Linked DNA regions of Homo sapiens: region 2 is linked to region 1. Evidence: fine-mapped expression QTL. Tissue or cell type: lung. Region 1 holds a variant in brackets; the other region holds the start of a gene. All regions are shown on one strand. Distances are between the middles of the regions.

What was found. PIP is the estimated chance that this variant, and not a neighbour inherited with it, causes the effect.
Region 2: SLC4A3 starts here. The variant in region 1 is fine-mapped to the expression of SLC4A3 in lung (TOPMed, PIP above 0.99).

Annotation. Positions count from the first base shown.
Region 1 is chr2:219,669,021-219,671,871 of GRCh38, reverse strand. No RefSeq gene overlaps it. Among named protein-coding and RNA genes, the nearest start is that of SLC4A3, 43 kb to the right of the region's middle. The variant C/T (reference allele first, on the strand shown) is at 1,446.
Region 2 is chr2:219,626,018-219,628,692 of GRCh38, reverse strand. It overlaps SLC4A3 (solute carrier family 4 member 3), which reads right to left and starts at 1,063. Exons shown (of 23, transcript NM_005070.4): 1 at 948-1,063; 2 at 650-793; 3 at 123-288. The coding sequence starts at 700. LOC124908064 (a long non-coding RNA gene) reads left to right here and starts at 683. Exons shown (of 2, transcript XR_007088701.1): 1 at 683-753. RefSeq lists an enhancer at 1-560.

The DNA.
Region 1 (2,851 bases):
TCAAATTGGTTTTTTAAAAATTGTATTTCAGTAGCATTAGGGGTACAAGTGGTTTTGGATTACATGGGTGAATCATATTCAAGTTGTTTTAAATGAGAGCAGGACAAGAATTAGAATCTTGCAATCCATGGCAGTTCTTTCTCCACAACACTCAGTAGATACCTTGATATATGCATACTCGTTTGTTTGATATGAAACATATGAGGGGAAGATAGGAGAGGAATCTCTCATTCTGATTCAGTTGCCTGAAAATCCTTGCCTTAGCTCATTCCTTTGAGCCGAAGGTATTGAAGCCCTCCTTTAAAATGCAAATATCATCTAGGAAGAGTGACACATAAATCATTGTCTTTCATTAGTCCCACAGACCAGAGCACTTTATCAATCACTAATTTTTCTCCATGCTACTCAAGAGAACGCTAACGTGGAACGTGTCTAGACTCACTGAGTGGGGTGGGGTTGCAGCTGGCAGGACACCTGTGTTCTGGCCTCTGTGTTTTCACTCTCGAAACAAGGAGGGATGGATTTGATGATCTTTGAAATCCTGAGGCTCAATGCCCCCCACTATAGCCTGAATGTGTCCTTGCAAAATTCATAGGTTGAAAGCTAATCAACGATGTGATGTGTTAAGACATGGGGCCTGTTTAGGGGGTGATTAAGCTCTCATGGGTGGGATTAGTGGCCTTATAAAAGAGGTATAAGGAAGCTGTTCACCCCTTCTGTTGATCTCAGATCTCTCAACCTCCGGAACTGTGAAAAATAAATTTCTGTTGTTTATAGATTACGCATCCCAAAGAATCTTGTCATAGCAACCCAAGTGGATGAAGAGACCCCCACATCCATCGGAGGGTGAACTCTAACTCATACATGTGTCTTGGGGATGCCGGCACAATAAAGTCTCGCCTCGTCCCATCTCTGTTTGGCATTTGAATCCAAATCTCTTTGTTCTGTTAGGCAACTGTTTGGGGCTTTTTATTCATTTGACAGGTGGATCTTTTTGAAGTTCTCATTTAAAATAATTTGATATTCAAGCTGTATGTGTGTGGTTGAAAGTCATAAAATTATTCATCTGAAAGACCTCTCCTTTTCTCTCAGATACCAACTGAAGTTTGCAGCAGTTCCCCCGAGCAAAGCTCGCTGCCTAGAAAGCTCTTTTTCAGCAACGCTCTGCCATCATCACTAAATTGAGTTATTCCAACAGCCTTTGATGCTCTGTTTTTTTTCCTAAGTGTGCATATGAAAGCTGAACAGCAACATAATTTAATTCTTCAAGATTTACTTTTTAATCACCAGGGTGATTCTTGTGGGGTACAGAGAGTTGACCCCGTTTTCTCAAGTTGAAATTGATTTAGGTCAAACAATTCTTGGAATTTGAATTAGATATTTTTCTCCTTATCGGCATGAACTTCAAGCTTCATTTTCCAACAGCTGGAAACATCTGTGCTACC[C/T]ATGAATTACAGACGATTTGAGAAAACTAAATGTGGGCAAAGAAGATATTCACAACTCACAGAATTCTATCGGCAGAATTCTTCATAATGAGCTGAATTGGTGTTGAAGTACAATTGTGTTAGGTGTCTGAGTTCCTTTTATGAAAGAAAAATGAGACAATTACCAAGGACTAAGAATGCAATCAAAATAATACAACCATTTTACTGTTGAATAAGAAATCTTTCTATAAACACTATGGCATATTATTCCAGAATAAAAATATTTACCAGGAGGGGATTCTACTGAGAATTGTACCATGGAAAGTTAAGAGGCTTCTTCCCCCTAACTCAAATGTGCACCCACAGCATTATTGTCTGATTATGTAGTCAATGAACAAGGAACAAATATGTCTATCTAGAATAAAGCACCCTGTTTACATCAAGGTATTTCTTCACACAGGGATTGAATTTGAATACATAAATATTTCCATATGATTTGTTAATTACCTTTAGTAATAAATGTACTTAGATCCTCCCAATGCAAAAAGAATCTCTGAACAGTCAACTGATTAAAGAAAAAAAGCAGGGGATAGATTAGCTTGGAAATCAAAGAGGTAAGACAAAGCATCTTGGGTGAGCAACCGATAACTCCACTCCTCAGCTGCTTGCAGACTCATACCTTCATTTATTTGACCATCTGGGCACTCAATGAATTAAAGTCCACAGCTGTCCAGCCCTCCTCTCATACTCCCAGTTTAGGATGTTTTGGGAAGACAGGGAAGGGCTAGGGGTGGATCCCCAGGCCTGAGGCCCGTGAGGATGTCAATTTCAGGGAAGTTCTAGGGATTCCCGCTAGACTAGGGTTTCATGAGAGCTTTGATCTCCCCACTAAGCCAACAAAAAACATCTGCAGCAGGACAGAGAAGACTGAGACACCCTTATATCAATTCAGTAAATACTTCCTGAGCACTGATTATGCTTAACTCTATGGGGACTCCAGATCAAGGATTCAGGCATGAGGTGACACAAGTCGAGTTCCAACACATATCAGGCACTTGATATTTACTGAATGAAGGGTTGGTTGAAGAAGAGGGCAGTGTGAATGGAGAACAGAAAATATTTAGTAATATTAGTAATCGCACAGAAAATATTTGAGGACTTGATAACTGTCTGGGTGGAGAAAAGAAAGAGAAGGGAAATTGAACTGTGGCCCCAAAGGTTTCTCACCCAGGGACCAATGTAACAGGAATACCAAAGGTGCAAATAGGGACATTGGAGGAAAGAAGGACATTCTGGTGGAGACCGCAGCCTACCTGTCCTCAGAGAGGACTTGTTCAGAGCTGGCACAAACCGCTCCAGGATGGTTTCCCTTGGAGAGCTGAAATTGGAGGTCCAAGATACCGAACTGTAGAAACAGATTCTCCAGT
Region 2 (2,675 bases), 43 kb after region 1:
TCCAGCACAGTGTCCGGCACAGGATGGCACTGGGTGACCAAGCCGGAGGTGAGCGCGGTGATGGTGGCGATGAAGGTGATGGTGGCGAGGGCGGCCGCACTAGGGGTCCCCAGGCTACCCACACTCAAAGTCCCGCTCGCTGTAGCTGCGGCTGGGCTTCTCGGGGTCCCAGGCCGGGGGCTTGCTGATGAGGTCCCCAAACCTGCTCACAGCCAAGGTCTTGCCCAAGTCATCGTCCTCCTCCTCCACGTCTGGACTTAGAGGGGGCTCCTCCAAGGGCACCCGGACCTGCAGGCCCAGACGGCCTCTGCTAAGGACCCCTGACCCATGAAGGCCCCACACCCACCCCAACTCCAAGCCCTAGTTGGGGGAGCTCAGCAGGCTCTCACACCATCGGGCCCCCTCCCCTTGCTCCCAGGCCTGTGTCAGCATCCCAGAAACCACCCTCTCTGGGCTCCCAGAGCTTGTAAAGAGAGAGGGCTACGGATCTGGAAAATATCAAAAACCCCCCTCTTTCTCCGTAACCCCCAGCCCAGCTCATCCCTGGATCTGGGGGGTCCCGGGGTCGGCCAGAGGACTCCTCTGCCCACCCTAAGGTCCCTCCCCTCTCCTCCCCCATCTCTCCCCCGCCCCCGCGCGCGCCGATCACCTGGGGTAGGGGGGAGGCGCCCCCGGGCGGCGGGATCACTCCGTTGGCCATGGCCAGGTAGGCGGCTGGGGACGCTCTCGCTCACTAGGGGACCCGAGACCCAGGTGAGAAGGAGGGGCCACTGAGGGGGCCTAGCGGGGAGCCCTGGGGGAGGAGGGCGGGGTCAGGTTCCTTGCGCTGGCGCCCCCCACCCGGGAGCCGGATGCACGCTCCCGGCCCAAGCGCCCCTCCGAGGCCCAGCCACGCCCGGGACAGCCCGGGTCCCCCGCCCTGCCCGGCGTGCCCCGCCCCGCGGTACCTCGGGGCTCCGGAGCCTGCGAGGCCCAGGCGGGCCGCCGCGCCCCATGTCCCCCGCGCTCTCTCCCGAGCGCAGCCGCGACTGCCGTCCGGCCTCTCGCAGCGCAGAGCCGGGCTGGCCGGGCGGACGCAGGCGCCGGAGCCCGCAGCCCGCGGCTCCACCTCCTCGCGCTCCGCTCCGCACCTCCGCCGCCGCCGCCGCCGCCGCCGCCGCCGCCGGGCCGCACAATGGGAGCGGGCGGGCCGTGACTCACCCCGCCCCGGCCGGCGCGGCCCCCACGCGCGGGCCCCGCAGCACCCCACCTGCCCGTGCGCCCCTTCTCCAGGCGCCCCACGCATCGCTGGGGGCTGGGGCGCGGCCCGATATTCCCACAATCCCCCAGATTCGCTCCCCAACCCTGCTTTTAGCCTCCCCTCCCCTCCAGAGCCCAGGAAGCCACCCCCTCCGCAGACACAGGCCCCTCCAGTCTTGGGAACGGAGCTCACAGACCCCTGGAAGCACCCACCACCTCCCCTTTCATTTCTACCACAGCCTTGCCTCTCAAAGGCCTGGCTTCTGTCGCCTGGCACCACCCAACGTTTGACCTTGACACAGTACCTCCCCTCCTCCCGCCTCAGCTTCCCCAGCTGTAGCGAGAGGGGCCTGCAATAGGGGTGTTCCAAAGTTCTATGCAACTCTAAGACTGTGTGGCTCCGTTTCCACATTTCCTCTCCCTTCTCCCCCTATCCCTGAGGTCACATCTCATTTTCCAAGGGCAAAAGGTCTTTCGAAGGAGCCACTGGACCCCAATCGGCCCCTATCCCGAGATCAATGAAACTGGACTTCTACACAGTGCGATGCCATAACAGCCCTGTGACCTTGGTACTTCACCGCGTCTGACCCCTGGCCTCATCTAGATCTCAGCTCAACCCAAGGAAAGATTTTCTGTGTGCATAGCCTTCCAAGGGGAAGGGAGCTAGGATCTGTTGGACGCCCACATTGTCTTGTGTGTGCTCACAGTCCTGTGCTAGGTTGGCCCTCTCCAGACTGGCTGCCTCGTCTCAGGCATAATAATAAGAGGAGCTGTTATGATTCCCATTTGGTCGGCAGAGGACAGTGGAGACTCAGGGAGGCTCGTTACCTGCCATGGTCACAGCTGGAAAGCAGGCTGCCGACAGGTTTGGGCATCATTATCCATGTATTGAAGTGACTCTCCAAGCCACAAACAAAATTTTTAACTGAAAGAGATGAACTGTCCTCCTAAGTCTCACATGGTGAGTCCCAAGGTGGGAATTCCTAGGGTGGGAATCAGCTATGCCTAGGCAGAGCACAGCTGTGCCCCAAAACTCAGAATGGGAGACCCAGCTGTTGGGAGTTGAGTAGTGTCCCCCAAAATTTATACGTTGAAGTCCTAACCCCTGGTACATCAGAGTGTGCCCTTATTTGGCAATAACGTTCTTGCAGATGTTAAGATAAGGGTGGACTCATCCATTATGACTGGTGTTCCAGTGAAAAGGGGAAATTGGCCAGGTGCGGTGGCTCACACCTGTAATCCCAGCACTTTGGGAGGCCAAGGCGGGTGGATCACGTGAGATCAGGAGTTCGAGACCAGCCTGGCCAACATGGTAAAACCCTGTCTCTACTAAGAATTAGCTGGGCGTGGTGGCACACGCCTGTAATCCCAGCTACTCAGGAGGCTGAGGCAGGAGAATTGCTTGAACCCAGGAGGCAGAGGTTGCAGTGAGCAGG